Homo sapiens: one gene and its partners. The protein of the gene in region 2 interacts with the protein of the main gene of each other region in a biochemical or structural test. Each region holds a gene or a part of one and is shown on either strand. Other genes may lie near its edges.

Region 1 (3,500 bases), about 16 Mb from region 2:
CTGCTGCCACCACCAGGGAGGCTGGAAAGGAGTTCCTGCAGGTGCCCAAGACCCCCAGAGAGAGTGTGATGCCCTGATTGGCCTGTGAGGTTTCCCCAGCGCCCCCTGGAGTTTAGAGCCCTGAATGCCATCTCCCTTCTCCACCCCTGGCCTCTCACCCTCGCAGCTCCACTTGGGCCTCTGCCCGGACCGGCACGTCCAGCAGCACAATCTTGCTGTTTGGATTCTGGCTGTTCTTGCTAGAGGGGAGGGGATGAGGAGAAACAGGGCCAGGGACACCAGCCCAGTGACTTTCTGGGGGTGAGGCCAGAATTTTAGAGAGTTCAGAGAGAGCTAATTATACAAAGAGCATGCCACACTGAAGTTAGACCTGGGAAAGAACTTCCTCTAGGGCTCCAAGACTCAGACATAAATCTCTGAGGAAGAAAGGGAACCAGGCTTCTTCAAAGACCTTTTTTTTTTTCTTTTGAGATAGAATCTCGCACTGTCGCCCAGGCTGGAAGGCTGGAGTGCAGTGGCCCAATCTCAGCTCACTGCAACCTCCACCTCCCAGGTTCGGTTCAAGCTATTCTCCTGCCTCAGCCTCCCGAGTAGCTGGGATTGTAGGTGCGCACCACCATGCCCAGCTAATTTTTATATTTTTAGTAGAGATGGGGTTTCACCATGTTGGCCAGGCTGGTCTCCAACTCCTGACCTCCAGTGATCCTTCTGCCTTGGCCTCGCAACGTGCTGGGATTACAGGTGTGAGCCACTGCGCCTGGCCTCGAAAGACCCTTCTGTATGGAAGGGACCTGAGGGGCTCTGCACGGGGGTCAGACGGGGGAAGGGTGGTGGGTAGGCACGCTCGCCAGGTCAGTACCTCCGTATCTGCAGCTGGAAGGACACAGACTCCCCAGCCTCTTCCAGATTCCCCACGCTCACCAACATCGCGATTCCTATCTGGGAGATGAGGAGGGCCAAGGTCACTGCCCAAGTGCCCCACTTAGGACAGCCCTGCCCTGAATGTGGCCTCCAGTCTTCACCCTCCAAGATCACCACTATTCTTTTTCTTTTTTTTTTTTTCCGAGACGGAGTCTCACTCTGTCACCCAGGCTGGAGTGCAGTGGCATGATCTCGGCTCACTGCAACCTCCACCTCCCAGGTTCAAGTGATTTTTCTGCCTCAACCTCCCGAGTAGCTCTGACTATAGGCGTGCGCCACCATGCCCGGGTAATTTTTGTATTTTTAGTAGAGACGGGGTTTTGCTATGTTGGCCAGGCTGGTCTTGAACTCCTGACCTCGTGATCCACCCGTCTCGGCCTCCCAGAGTGCTGGGATTACAGGCGTGAGCCACCGCACCAGGCCACCATTATTATTTCTATTTTACCTGGAAGCCCACTGGGTAAAGGGGCTCAGAGAGGGAAAGTCACTCACCCAAGGACATGTGGCAAGGGAGTGTGAGGACCAAGATTCTGGCCCAGAACTATGTGGCTCTAAAACCTCACCCCTAAAATCTGGTTATTCATGAGCCCCTGGTGGAGACCCGGTACCACGACCCAGCAGCCTCACCTGGGCGTTCTTCTTCATGGGGTTGCCCAGCTCACACAGCACCACCCTGGTCTCATTCTCCTTCTTCTGATTACAGATGAGTCTCTCAAAGCCCTTCAGGAAGGCAGTTCCAAGAAAGAAATTACAGAGCATCATATATATATATTTAAGCTCCCTTGGAAGGTCTGGAAAGATTTGTGTGCCAAGGTAGGGAGGGGGGGGTTTCTTGGGGTGGGGTCTCAAGGGACTGTCACATGCTAGTGTGTGTATTGCTGTAGCACTACTACTTTTTAGGCATTTTCATTTTGGAAATAAAAAACACAAAACATTAGAGTATGACCCCCATTATTATAAACTATATTAACAACATAAAAAATAAATATATACTTATGTGAGTGTGAGTCAATATTGAAAAAAAGACTGGAAGGAAATCCACCAAATGTTAACAGAGGTTCCTGTTAACATTTGGTTCCTAAACCTTTTTTGTTTTTCTGGTTTTTGTAATAGAGTTTTGGAATTCTGTGCCATTAGCAAGTATTCCTCCTCCAAATTAAAAAAAAAATAAAAAATTACATCTTTGACAGCAAAGCAGAAGAGAAGAGGGACTCTCAGGGAGGGAGATGAGAGAGCCAAGGCTCCAGTGCCTCCCAGGTCCCGGGTACTGTTCCCAGGGTGGGGGCCATACCTCGACATTGCTTAGGGCCCGCATGTAGTGGGCGCCCTGGGGCAGGTGCACGGCCAGCTCTGCTTCATAGGCCCCCTCGCCCTCGTTGGCTGCGTCCATCTGCAGCTCCAGGACATTATCTGCCCCAACTAGGAGCGGGGAGCCCGTCCTGTGGGGAAAGAGGAGTGAAGCCAGGGAGCCTGGGTCTGGGCCCAGGATGTGGGAAAAGAGGGGACTAAGGTGTGGAGCAGGTATGATAGGCAGAAAGGGCCAGGGTCGGGCAGAATGGGAGGCCTCCTCACACGCTGGCAGTGAGCTGAAGCTGGGGCACACATACGTCATCTTCCCCACAGTCCAGGACGATTCGTGTCTAGAGGGGCACATTGGGGTGTGCGGGTAAGTTGGGGATGTGTGAGGTTTAGGGATTACATCAGGGTTAGGAAAACAGTGGGCTTGGGGTTCACATAGGGGCTTAGGGAGTAAGAAGATCTGAGGACGAAAAGGAGTTTGTAGATGGTATCGGGGCTCGGGTTTATTTGGAGGTTTGGGACAATGTCAGGGTTTGTCAATTTACATCAGAGCTTAGGGGATACTGGGATTTTCAGGTGTTTATTTTATTTTTGGAGACGGAGTCTCGCTCTGTCGTCCAGGCTGGAGTGCAGTGGCACTATCTCGGCTCACTGCAAGCTCCGCCCCCCGGGGTTCACGCCATTCTCCTGCCTCAGCCTCCCAAGTAGCTGGGACTACAGGTACCCGCCACCACGCCCAGCTAATTTTTTTTTTTTTTTTGTATTTTTAGTAGACGGGGTTTCACTGTGTTAGCCAGGATGGTCTTGATCTCCTGACCTCGTGATCCACCCGCCTTGGCCTCCCAAAGTGCTGGGATTACAGGCGTGAGCCACTGCGCCTGGCTTTTTTTTTTTTTTTTGAGACAGAGTCTTGCTCTGTCACCCAGGCTGGAGTGCTGTGGCACACTCTTGGCTCACTGCAACCTCTGCCTCCTGGGTTCAAGTGATTCTCCTGCTTCAGCCTCCCGAGTAGCTGGAATTACAGGCATGCGTCACCACACCCGGCTAATTTTTTTTGTATTTTTAGTAGAGATGGGTTTTCACCATGTTGGCCAGGTTGGTCTCTAACTCCTGACCTCAGGCAATCTGCCTGCCTCGGTCTCCCAAAGTGCTGGGATTACAGGTGTGAGCCACCATGACTGGCTGGATTTTGAGGTTTTCATTAGGGTTTGGAATGACATCAAGGTTTTGGGGTTCACATTGTGACTTGGCACTAACCCTAATCCTGATTTGCTATCAGG
Region 2 (4,015 bases):
CCACCCCCAAGCCGTCCCCAGCCACGCCCACGCCCCTGGCCAGCCTTCCCTAGCCCCTCAGTCAGTCGCAGCCACCTCCCCCTGCGCTGGACTTGGAGGAAGGGGGTGGAGAATGAGAGGACGCTCTCCGTTCTCCGCCCCGCCTCCCCGCCCCACGTGACATCGGTACGTGGGAGCAACACCGCTGGATGCCCCCTCCCTACTAAATGGTTAAAACAATCATCATAACTCTTAAGGCCCTTTTATGGCTGTTTCTTAGCGAAACCTCACAACATGCCTATGGGGTGGGAATTGATGTTCCATTCCACAGCTGACTCCACTGAAGCCCATGAGGAAGAAATTGGCCCAAATCACAGTCCCCTCTGATTACAGAACAGAAAAAGTCAGCTAAAATCTCAGGATCACTTTTTTCAGGTGATGGGAGGATTTCAGAAGTTCTGTGGACACCTGAAATTGGGCACAAAATCAGGTGTTTCATGCCAGTGGGCATTTTCCAGGTAGAGGGATCATATTTCTCTCGAGAGTCTAAAAGTGTGTTGAACAAGCCCACTCTTTACAGATGGGGAGACTGAGCCTGGGGACAGGGAGTGGCCTGCTCAGAAAAGACTCAGAAATTAAATCCAGTCCAGTGGGTTGATATTTACCCAAATTTCCAGCCTGGGGAGATTGATGCACCCAAGAGAAGAACCCAGAAATGAAACTTTGTTCTTTTATGCTAAAAAATAAAATTCCCCAGAGTGCTTACAATCTCTCCTCCCACTCCCTTTTTCCTGCCCTAAATAAATAATGGCGAATGAGCACCCAGCCAGGGATGTGTCTGATCAAACAATCATGGATCAATAGCTATGTTTGGAGAAGGAATTTGTGGCTGCTCCAGCTACTGGGCATTTTGTCTGGTCCAGTTCATGTAATCTCCCAACACCCCATGAAGCAAGGCTTTGTTAATCCTATTTTACTGAAAATGAACTAAGACTCAGAGAGATAAAGCTGTTGCCCAATGAGCCTTCTTTCTGCCCTCCAGATCCACGGTGCTAATTCCCCTTCCGATGACCTAATGATTCTGAGCTTGGCAAAGGTCTTATCTCCCAGCTCGCCCAGGCCCAGTGTTCCAGGAATGTGACCTTTGCTGCAGCAGCCGCTGGAGGGGGCAGAGGGGATGGGCTGGAGGTTGAGCAAACAGAGCAGCAGAAAAGGCAGTTCCTCTTCTCCAGTGCCCTCCTTCCCTGTCTCTGCCTCTCCCTCCCTTCCTCAGGCATCAGAGCGGAGACTTCAGGGAGACCAGAGCCCAGCTTGCCAGGCACTGAGCTAGAAGCCCTGCCATGGCACCCCTGAGACCCCTTCTCATACTGGCCCTGCTGGCATGGGTTGCTCTGGCTGACCAAGGTACAGGGGAGTGTTGGTGGCCATCTGGGTCAATGTAGGGAGGGCGAGGGTGGTCTGGGCTTGGTGGCACCGACTGACACTCCTTCCTCATAGAGTCATGCAAGGGCCGCTGCACTGAGGGCTTCAACGTGGACAAGAAGTGCCAGTGTGACGAGCTCTGCTCTTACTACCAGAGCTGCTGCACAGACTATACGGCTGAGTGCAAGCCCCAAGGTGTGTTCAGAGCCCAGGTGGGTGGGCTGGGGTGCCCCCTGCTGCTGGAGACTCACTACCATCCACTCTCTGCAGTGACTCGCGGGGATGTGTTCACTATGCCGGAGGATGAGTACACGGTCTATGACGATGGCGAGGAGAAAAACAATGCCACTGTCCATGAACAGGTGGGGGGCCCCTCCCTGACCTCTGACCTCCAGGCCCAGTCCAAAGGGAATCCTGAGCAGACACCTGTTCTGAAACCTGAGGAAGAGGCCCCTGCGCCTGAGGTGGGCGCCTCTAAGCCTGAGGGGATAGACTCAAGGCCTGAGACCCTTCATCCAGGGAGACCTCAGCCCCCAGCAGAGGAGGAGCTGTGCAGTGGGAAGCCCTTCGACGCCTTCACCGACCTCAAGAACGGTTCCCTCTTTGCCTTCCGAGGTGAATCCAGGGCAGGTACTGGGGATGCGGGTCTGCCCCAGGAGCGTCCCTGCTCTCACACCATCTCCTCCACTCTAGGGCAGTACTGCTATGAACTGGACGAAAAGGCAGTGAGGCCTGGGTACCCCAAGCTCATCCGAGATGTCTGGGGCATCGAGGGCCCCATCGATGCCGCCTTCACCCGCATCAACTGTCAGGGGAAGACCTACCTCTTCAAGGTGCCAGGGGCTGTGGGCCAGGGTAGAAAGCATCTAGGGAGGGTTTGAGAGCTATTGCTCCCAGGGACAGGGTGGACAGGGAAGCTGGACCCAGGGCCCTGCAGGACCTGGTGGGAGCTCTGTGAGCACAGGGCAGCCCCAAGACTCCAGGTCCTGGGCAGTGAACCTGGACCTGGGAACGGCTGCCTTAGGGCAAGGGACTCTGCCTCTGTGCCCAGCCAGCGGCCTCCATACCCCTTTTCACTTTCCCCACCTCTTAGGGTAGTCAGTACTGGCGCTTTGAGGATGGTGTCCTGGACCCTGATTACCCCCGAAATATCTCTGACGGCTTCGATGGCATCCCGGACAACGTGGATGCAGCCTTGGCCCTCCCTGCCCATAGCTACAGTGGCCGGGAGCGGGTCTACTTCTTCAAGGGTACTCAGGGGGTGGTGGGAGACTGAGCAGGCAGTGGAGCAGTCTTGGATTCCTTTCACATTTCACTGGGGACAGGCCTCAGCATGTGCCCACCCCTGACCCCCACCTCATGCTGGGAGATCCTAACTTCAACAGCCTCTGGGATCTCCAGTCTTGCCCTGGCCCAGCCCTCCTAATGCCCACCACCCTGCTCCTCAGGGAAACAGTACTGGGAGTACCAGTTCCAGCACCAGCCCAGTCAGGAGGAGTGTGAAGGCAGCTCCCTGTCGGCTGTGTTTGAACACTTTGCCATGATGCAGCGGGACAGCTGGGAGGACATCTTCGAGCTTCTCTTCTGGGGCAGAACCTCTGGTATGGAGAGAGGGCAAGTCTTGCTTCTCCCTCAAAAGGGCTGAAACCCCTTGGTATTGGTAGAGCCAGGCCGGCTGGAGGGGGCTGTGGTTGTGGAGCTATCGATCAAAGTCTGTTTGCTCAGGCCAGACTTTGCTTCTGTTGACCTTTTGGGGAAAGCTCAGCTCTACCTGGACCCCACACCTTGGACTTTGCCTAGCACAGCTGAGAGCACAGCCAGCAGAGGGAGGGGCTGTGGCTGAGGAGTTTAGGGGGCCTGGGGGGGTGGGGTCGAGACACCAGTGATATGGTGGAGGGAAAGCACAGGGGGAAGGGAATTGGACTGAGAGTCAAAGGCCTGGCTCTGCCATTCGCTGCTGTGTGTCTTTGGGCAAGGTGCAGCAGATGAACTCTAATGGCCCCGCTGGAAGGGGCAAGATTCGGACCCCCAAGACCTCTCATTCACCCCTTCCCTGCCACAGCTGGTACCAGACAGCCCCAGTTCATTAGCCGGGACTGGCACGGTGTGCCAGGGCAAGTGGACGCAGCCATGGCTGGCCGCATCTACATCTCAGGCATGGCACCCCGCCCCTCCTTGGCCAAGAAACAAAGGTTTAGGCATCGCAACCGCAAAGGCTACCGTTCACAACGAGGCCACAGCCGTGGCCGCAACCAGAACTCCCGCCGGCCATCCCGCGCCACGTGGCTGTCCTTGTTCTCCAGTGAGGAGAGCAACTTGGGAGCCAACAACTATGATGACTACAGGATGGACTGGCTTGTGCCTGCCACCTGTGAACCCATCCAGAGTGTCTTCTTCTTCTCTGGAGGTAGGAGCCGCTGCCACCCCTGAAGCTGGTCTAGCTTGGGTTTTCCTTGCTGTCCCTGGTGCACAAGGGCTGAACGCAGCCTGCAAGTAGTGACCACAGAAAGCCAGGCCAGAAGTCCTTAGCTGCATCATGGATGTTCACTTTCCCTTCTGGGAGAGACCCTAGACTTCTCAAGGGAAGAGTGGGCAGGGCCAGGCTGGGCCTCAC
Region 3 (3,500 bases), on a different chromosome or scaffold from region 2:
TTAAAGAACCTGACACATTGCTCTTTAGCTTTTACTGTGTACTTCTGTCTCCCCATCTGGACCACAAATGACTTGAGAGTAGATAGAGCTCAGGTTTTTTGTTTTTTGTTTTTGAGATGGAGTCTCTATCTTTGTTTTGAGATGGAGTCTCACTGGAGTGCAGTGTTGAGATCTCAGCTCACTGCAACCTCCATCTCCCAGGCTCAAGGGATCCTCCTACCTCAGCCTCCTGAGTAGCTGGGACTACAGGTGTGCACCAGCATGCCAGGCTAATTTTTGTACTTTTTGGTAGAGACAGCGTTCCACCATAGAGACAGGCTGGTCTCATTTGGTAGAGACAGGCTGGTCTCAAACTCCTGACCTCAAATGATCTGCCCACCTTGGCCTCCCAAAGTGCTCGGATTACAGGTGTGAGCCACTGTGCCTGGTCTGAATTCAGATTTTAGGTGTATTTCTTTTCTTTTCCCCTGGCATAGTCAGCTGCCCCTAGCATGTACTCTGCACTTAACCTGTGTCAACTGATGTCAGCTGAGCTCAGTGAAGATGGTTTTATGGAACTACACTAGTATTGTGTTGTAATGAGTTTTCCAGGAGCAGAGAAGAGACTGGCTCAGAGCCAAACTTGATCTTTTATTTCATTCCTCACTCAATCTCCCCCCACCCCAATCTCTATGCGCATTTTCACCCCAGGCATTTATGAGACAGCTGGACATGATTGGGGATGTGATCACTCATGCTGGGAGATAGTTATATGAGTGGCCCACAGAGAATGGGTCAAATTGTTTGCAGTACAGTGCGGGGGGAAAAAAACAACAGCAAAAGAGACATTCTAATATATTCCTGAGTACTCAGCTAACTGTAATGAGTCCTTAGTTCTTTTCTAAGTTTAACCAAATTCCTGTAAAATCGTTGTGCTATTAGCTTGCAAAATTACATTATATGTGCCTCTATAGTGGGTTACCATTGTAAGAATTATGCACTTTTAGCTGCTCAAGGAAAAGTAGTAACTACAAATATTCCATTACTTTTTAATAGTGCTACCAATAACAATAAGCACTGAAGCAAATTTTTGAAAATGCTGAATTTTTTCATTATCAGGGGAAAGTAATGATCCATATAAAATACTATACTATTTATTGTAGTTTTCATATTCAATTTTTAAGTGTACCTTAAATATCCAGGCCTTCTTCAAATTAGGTAATAAAGTTGTACTGAATTCAGTATTTGGGGTTTCATGGCAACATAGGTATGAGAAGGGAATTTAGAGTGAGTTTTCCAAAACAAGAAGCCTATGTTCTTTCCAGAAAGAAATCTGAGGAGGAGGTTATGATAATAAGCACATTGAAGAAGGAAAAATATAGAAAATTCAATTGGAGTTGATATTTCATTAGCTCCTTTCATTAGCAGAGGAGCTGTTTTTGTTGGCTAAAAGTTTCTCTAAACCTTTCCAAAGGCTCACGACACAAAGGCCTGTGAAACAATGTCCTCTGGCCTGTGAAACAAAACTCAACCTGAGACCCAAAACCAAAAGGCTGATCATAATACAACTCTTAAGGGTATCTGAGTTCATTTCTATCTGAAGTAGACTGAGTTCCTGAGAACCTGGGTTGATTTTATGGTCTCTCCACAAGTGGCTTGGCTGGACTTCACAGACAGCCAGGCGTCTGGCTAAGGTCATGCCCCTGATAAGACCTGAATACTCTGAAATCCCCAGGACAATCCTCAGATCAACTTAAATTTACAGAAACACTTCCCACTAGATGGGCTGAACATGGAACATGTTTTCTTGGAGCCATTTACAACTTAACTGGGACTATACCTACAGCTACCAGTATAGATCCTGGACCTTAAGAATGACCCCAAAACTCAATTCAAATCAAGGAGTCATCCATTGTGTTCTTGCTCAAAGTGCAAGAACACGGGCTGCCCTGTGACTAGAGTTTTGAGTGAACGTGGTAACCTCATATAAGATAGAACTCCAGTGCAAATCAGGTCCATGGCATTTCAATACAGCCCAGCTATTCACATAGCTTATACAATTTAGTTATTTTGTTTGTGTGTGTGTGTGTGGTTAAATGAGACTTTTCATTGAAAAACAGTCAGGATCTAAGTAAAAATAACCATTCACCAGGAGCCAGGGATAAAAACTGACCATCTGCTGCCTGGCCATCCTCACCAGCCACTGGTTGACCCCCATTCTTGAGGTCTTGGTGTTCTTTTATAACCACAAACTGCAGACAACAAAAAGGAGGGAGAGAGGATATTGTTAAAATTCACAAATTATCTCAACGTACATTGAATCAAAGTCTATGGCTTTACGATGTTCATCCTATGGAAAGTGAAAGTCAGAAGAAAGGCCCTGTGAAGTTAGTCTTTCTATCTAAAGAGAGATTCAACATTCAGTGAGGAGCCTTGTGTTACTTTGTCTTAAAGCAACTAGGCACACCAATATGTTAACTGAAGAATCTATTCTAATTATGGAATCTCAGCTTTTAGGTCACGGATCCCTGGAGCCACTGATTTACCATAAGCAATCCAAGAATCCATAAGTATTCTAAGAACTGCCCATAGGCCAGGCAAATAATATCTAATATATGTGTGTGCTACAACTTTTCATACACACACACGCACACACACATTAATAACACTCATTTAAACATGCTACCAAGTTCTGAGTAATTTGGGGCCATTAAAGGTAGTAATAATTACCAGTGCAATGACAATTTTGCAAGCTGGTTGAACAGCCTAGGGACCTAGAATTTTAATAGGAAGGAACAGAAAACAACATTTCTCTTCAGTCAACAAAATGATTACTTTTGTCATTATTTGTATTATCAAAAATTGATTGGGCACTTGCAATGCAGGCTGACCAGAGTTCACTGGCTCACATTCACTCTAGATAGATTAGATATTAAAACAGATCCATGCTACAAGGAAAGAAAAGAAGTGACCCCATACAACAGGACAAAGGACATCATTTGGTGAAGTCCTTCCTTGTCAATCAGTAACTAGTGCAAGGACTGCCCCAAGGTTTTGGCCGATCACGCTTCATTGGTTCAGAAATGGGCGCTCCACAGAAAGGAGCACACAACTCAGAAACAACAGAAAGAGGAGTAGAAAACAATCTCTTTGCCCATATTTTCCTTTGAGAAAGGTGTAGAAAGGGATGATGACTGGGGTCAATTAGGCAGAAGGCAGGGAAATGTTGGTAAGGGAAGTGTGAATCCACAGAACATGTATTTTCATTTTCTTATAATACAAATCATGCTTCATCTCCTCCTCATTGATGATCTCCTGCAGCAACACACTGCAAAATCAACACGCAACCCACTGTTTAAAGACACATGCCCATTATTTCTGTCTCAAGTCAAAATCCAACCCTCTGCACTGCAAATTTTCTAACCTCGTGCCTCTCTGTCAGAAGAACATAGGTCCCGAAATTCTGGGCTGAGGTGGGGAAAGGAGCTGATAGAACTACATTTGTTTCTGCTCTTTCTTCT
Region 4 (3,500 bases), on a different chromosome or scaffold from region 2:
GCCACATGGAGCAAGACAATATCCAGCCAAGCTCTGATGAAATTTCTGACCCACAAAAACTTGTGAAGTATAACAAAATGATTATTATTTGAGGCCACAACATTTTGAAGCTTGTTGTGCAGCAAATAGATAACCCAGACAGTGGTATGAATCATACTATTCTGGAGGTGGTAAGGTTTTAAATGAGAAATGACTATTGAAAGGGTGTGAGTTGGTGAGAAGAAACTAGAAATACTGGAGAGCTCCAAGTCCTCTGAGGTTAGCAAATTTAAATATAAGTATTCTTTGGTGGTCCCAAAGGATTGTTTAGGGCCATGAAGTTATGGGTACCCTTAGATATGTCATTAAGTTCCCCAAGCATTTCTTCATGTGTAAAATGGGGATTTATCCAACTCCAAGACAGCAGGTGTTCTTGCCCATATAGAAGATGTTCAACTTGAAGAGAATTCTCCTTCCTATTTTCTTTCCCTCTACCTCATACTTCTGGTCATGATTTTAATCATACATACAGGGGAAACTTAATCAAAGAAAGGTGTGTTCAAATTTACAAATGGGCTGAGAGCTATAACAACTATCATGGGTTTGAATGCATTCCTAGAGCACTGGAGTTTTGTCTGAACATATCGCAATAAAGGCTGCCTTTGGCATAAAGCTTTAAAAATATGGCAAAGATCGTTACTATCTAAAAACAGTTGTTTTTCATCTTTGTTTTCTCCTCTTTCCCTTCATCTTTCAGACACTTTATCCCTCTCATATTCCCTCCATTATTGGTATACATGGGAAGCCTATCTTGATCACACCAGTAGATGCTATTTAGAGTTTGTTAACGTGAAAGAGGTTAGAGAAAGCAGGAAAGAAAGATTTTATTTTCCTATCATTCATTAATATTCTGACACACTGTTCTGTAGAGAGGGGAGGGTAATGAAAATCGTAAGTTCACAAGCTTTCAGGTTTAAACAAGCTCAGAGTGACTTCAACAGAAGCATGGGTTTCCTAACTATCCCAGGTGGAGAGAAACAATAGACCTTCGCAGCTCTGGACAAGACAAACCCTGAACTCATGTATAGAATTGTTATCCTACGTCCATCCAGCCTCATATTGTGACTCTAAAAAGAATACCTGGCGGCATTTTTATGAGACAGAATGACTCAAAACTCTTGGGCTATATTTTAAATCTGCGAATTCCAATTGGAAGATCCAAATCTGAACAATCACACATGTGAGTCACCAGGAGAGCTCTTTGAAACCAACATCTGTGCCGAGGCAACTCTCATTTTCCTTTCCAGGGAAAATCAGAATCCCCTTGAAGGAAACTGTGGTTAGTCTTCGTAAAAGCTCCCCCAGGGATTCCAAACCTGGTGGAGTGCCTATGCTCACATGTAAGTTCACAGGCACGTGTGCACACATGTACACACATACATACTCTCCTCCTACTGAACATCAGTGTCCTGAAGAGTCCTAATAAATAATCCAAACAACCATGTAAACGACCTGAGAACCTTTTCATAGTCACCCTGTTTTCCTCTAGGGATTAGGATGCCAATTGTGTGTCAAGTAGTACAGTAATCAAAGGGTATCCAAGAACTTCAAAGGTTTTGTTCTTCTGAAGAGCTGAGCTTTCCAAATAGCTGAAGATCTGCCCATTTAAGCATCAAATCTGTTTTTTTTTTCCAAAATAATATTTCAGCAATTTTGGATGTGAAACTCTGTAAAATTTATTGCATGTGTTCAGTTTCCTGACTATAATTTAGCCTCATCTTCATAATTCAAGGTTATTACCATCGGCATCAATTCCTGTAATAGGACTAGAGATGGGAGTTTATTACCAAAGACTACAAAGACCTCCAAATGGCAGCCGGAGACAAAAGGAAAGTTGGAGAACACCATACTAAAAATAGGACTCCAAATAAAGAGGCCAGAAGCAAAAGTCAGAAGCCAGACAGGAAGCCAAAGAGATAAAGAGTGGGTTAACTATAAACAGGGTAAGATTCAGAAAACTTGTCCACAACAGGCATTGCTTCTGTGGTCTGATTATCTGAGATAGCGTTACTGTGATACAGTGGTAAAAATCTTTAGTCTAAAGCAGAAGTCCCCAACCTGGACGGTACAGGTCCATGGCCCATCAGGAGCCGGGCCGCACAGCAGGAGGTGAGCAGCAGGCAAGCAAGCAAAGCTTCATCTGTGTTTACAGCCACTCCCCATTGCTTGCAGTACTGCCTGAGCTCCACCTCCTGTCAGATTAGCGGCGGCATTAGATTCTCAAAGGAGCAAGAACCCTATTGTGAACTGCACGTGCTAGGGATCTAGGTTGCACGCTCCTTATGATAATCAAATGCCTGATGATCGGACACTGTCTCCCATCACTGCCAGATGGGACCATATATAGTTGCAGGAAAACAAGCTCAGCGCTCCCACTGATTCTATATTATGGTGAGTTGTATAATTATTTCATTATATATTACAATGAAATAAAGTGCACAATAAAAGTAATGCTCTGTGGAAAAATTGTATTCCACAAAACTGGTCCCTGGTGCCAAAAAGGCTGGGGACTGCTGGTCTAAAGGACCTGCTGTTGATGTCACGGTGTCCTCCTCTAGCCCTCCTCTTTTAATTCAGTGCTTCTAATTTCTTCTGGCCCTACAGATAGTCAAACTAGTTGAAGCAATAAAAGACAAGAGGCTGCCTTTCTGATCCATCAAAAGTGTGTGTGAGTTGTCTTCTCTTCGGGTGTTCAAGGATCTCTTTGACTTGCTCTCTGGACCTTGTCTGTGCTTCAGGAGTTGTATAGCTGAGCCCCAGAAAGATAAAAAAATTGCTATTATTTTATATTTTTCTGCTAGAATCTTCTTCTTCCAGATGCCCGTGTATAGTGACAGTGAACGTGCCCATGCTTCTCCAAACTAAAAGCTTCCATCTTGGGCCGTTCCTCTTTCAAGCGTGGGACTCTAAGCCATGCACATCATGTCACTTGCGTCATGGAGCAGCCGGTGCTTCAGAAACCTCTGAGGCACATCTACCAAGAACTCACTAAGGTCCTCTAAGTTGCCAGCCTCAAGAGAAACACCCTTTCCTGGAGATGGGATGGGCCCTGGGAGGAAAAAAGCCATTGGCAAGCCTGCTGGCAGAGGCTACTCCTCAGAGGACAGGGTCAAGGGGCCACAGAAAAATAGGGACTTAGCAGCTTCCATTACAGGTAACAGGACCTAGGTGACCCTGCCTCCAATTTACTGAAGCCATGTAACTAAAGTAGGGCCAAAGAGAGCAACCTATGATGCTATCGTCAGCAAAGAAGGAAATTTAAGGGTGATTTAATTGGTAAAAAAGAGAAGAAAAAGGAGATATAATCATGTTTTTTGTTTGTTTGTTTAAATCATCTTGTAATTTATCTGGCTACCCTTAATCTGGCTTTTTTTCATAGGAACCAGTTTTTGCTTCCCCTCCAAATATTACTTCATCCTCTAGCCTAGTTTGTCTTATTATTCTTCTATTCTGGCTGATCC

The links. Proteins that work in one complex are often made in the same cells at the same time.
Region 1: the proteins of VTN (region 2) and ITGA2B form a complex in vitro, tested with the Homo sapiens proteins (one study listed by BioGRID).
Region 3: the proteins of VTN (region 2) and EGF form a complex in vitro, tested with the Homo sapiens proteins (one study listed by BioGRID).
Region 4: the proteins of VTN (region 2) and TGFB2 form a complex in vitro, tested with the Homo sapiens proteins (one study listed by BioGRID).

What each region holds. Positions count from the first base shown.
Region 1 is NC_000017.11:44,376,150-44,379,649, forward strand, and holds part of ITGA2B (integrin alpha-IIb preproprotein), read right to left. Parts: intron 2,562-3,500; coding exon 2,494-2,561; intron 2,361-2,493; coding exon 2,213-2,360; intron 1,642-2,212; coding exon 1,549-1,641; intron 940-1,548; coding exon 860-939; intron 240-859; coding exon 159-239; intron 36-158; coding exon 1-35. UniProt on the Homo sapiens protein: Integrin alpha-IIb/beta-3 is a receptor for fibronectin, fibrinogen, plasminogen, prothrombin, thrombospondin and vitronectin. It recognizes the sequence R-G-D in a wide array of ligands.
Region 2 is NC_000017.11:28,367,508-28,371,522, reverse strand, and holds the start of VTN (vitronectin precursor), read left to right. Parts: upstream 1-1,215; 5' UTR 1,216-1,319; coding exon 1,320-1,383; intron 1,384-1,476; coding exon 1,477-1,596; intron 1,597-1,671; coding exon 1,672-2,016; intron 2,017-2,094; coding exon 2,095-2,234; intron 2,235-2,494; coding exon 2,495-2,651; intron 2,652-2,849; coding exon 2,850-3,002; intron 3,003-3,463; coding exon 3,464-3,808; intron 3,809-4,015. UniProt on the Homo sapiens protein: Vitronectin is a cell adhesion and spreading factor found in serum and tissues. Vitronectin interact with glycosaminoglycans and proteoglycans. Is recognized by certain members of the integrin family and serves as a cell-to-substrate adhesion molecule.
Region 3 is NC_000004.12:110,006,883-110,010,382, reverse strand, and holds part of EGF (pro-epidermal growth factor isoform 1 preproprotein), read right to left. Parts: intron 2,232-3,500; coding exon 2,153-2,231; intron 1-2,152.
Region 4 is NC_000001.11:218,407,836-218,411,335, reverse strand, and holds part of TGFB2 (transforming growth factor beta-2 proprotein isoform 2 preproprotein), read right to left. Parts: intron 1-3,500.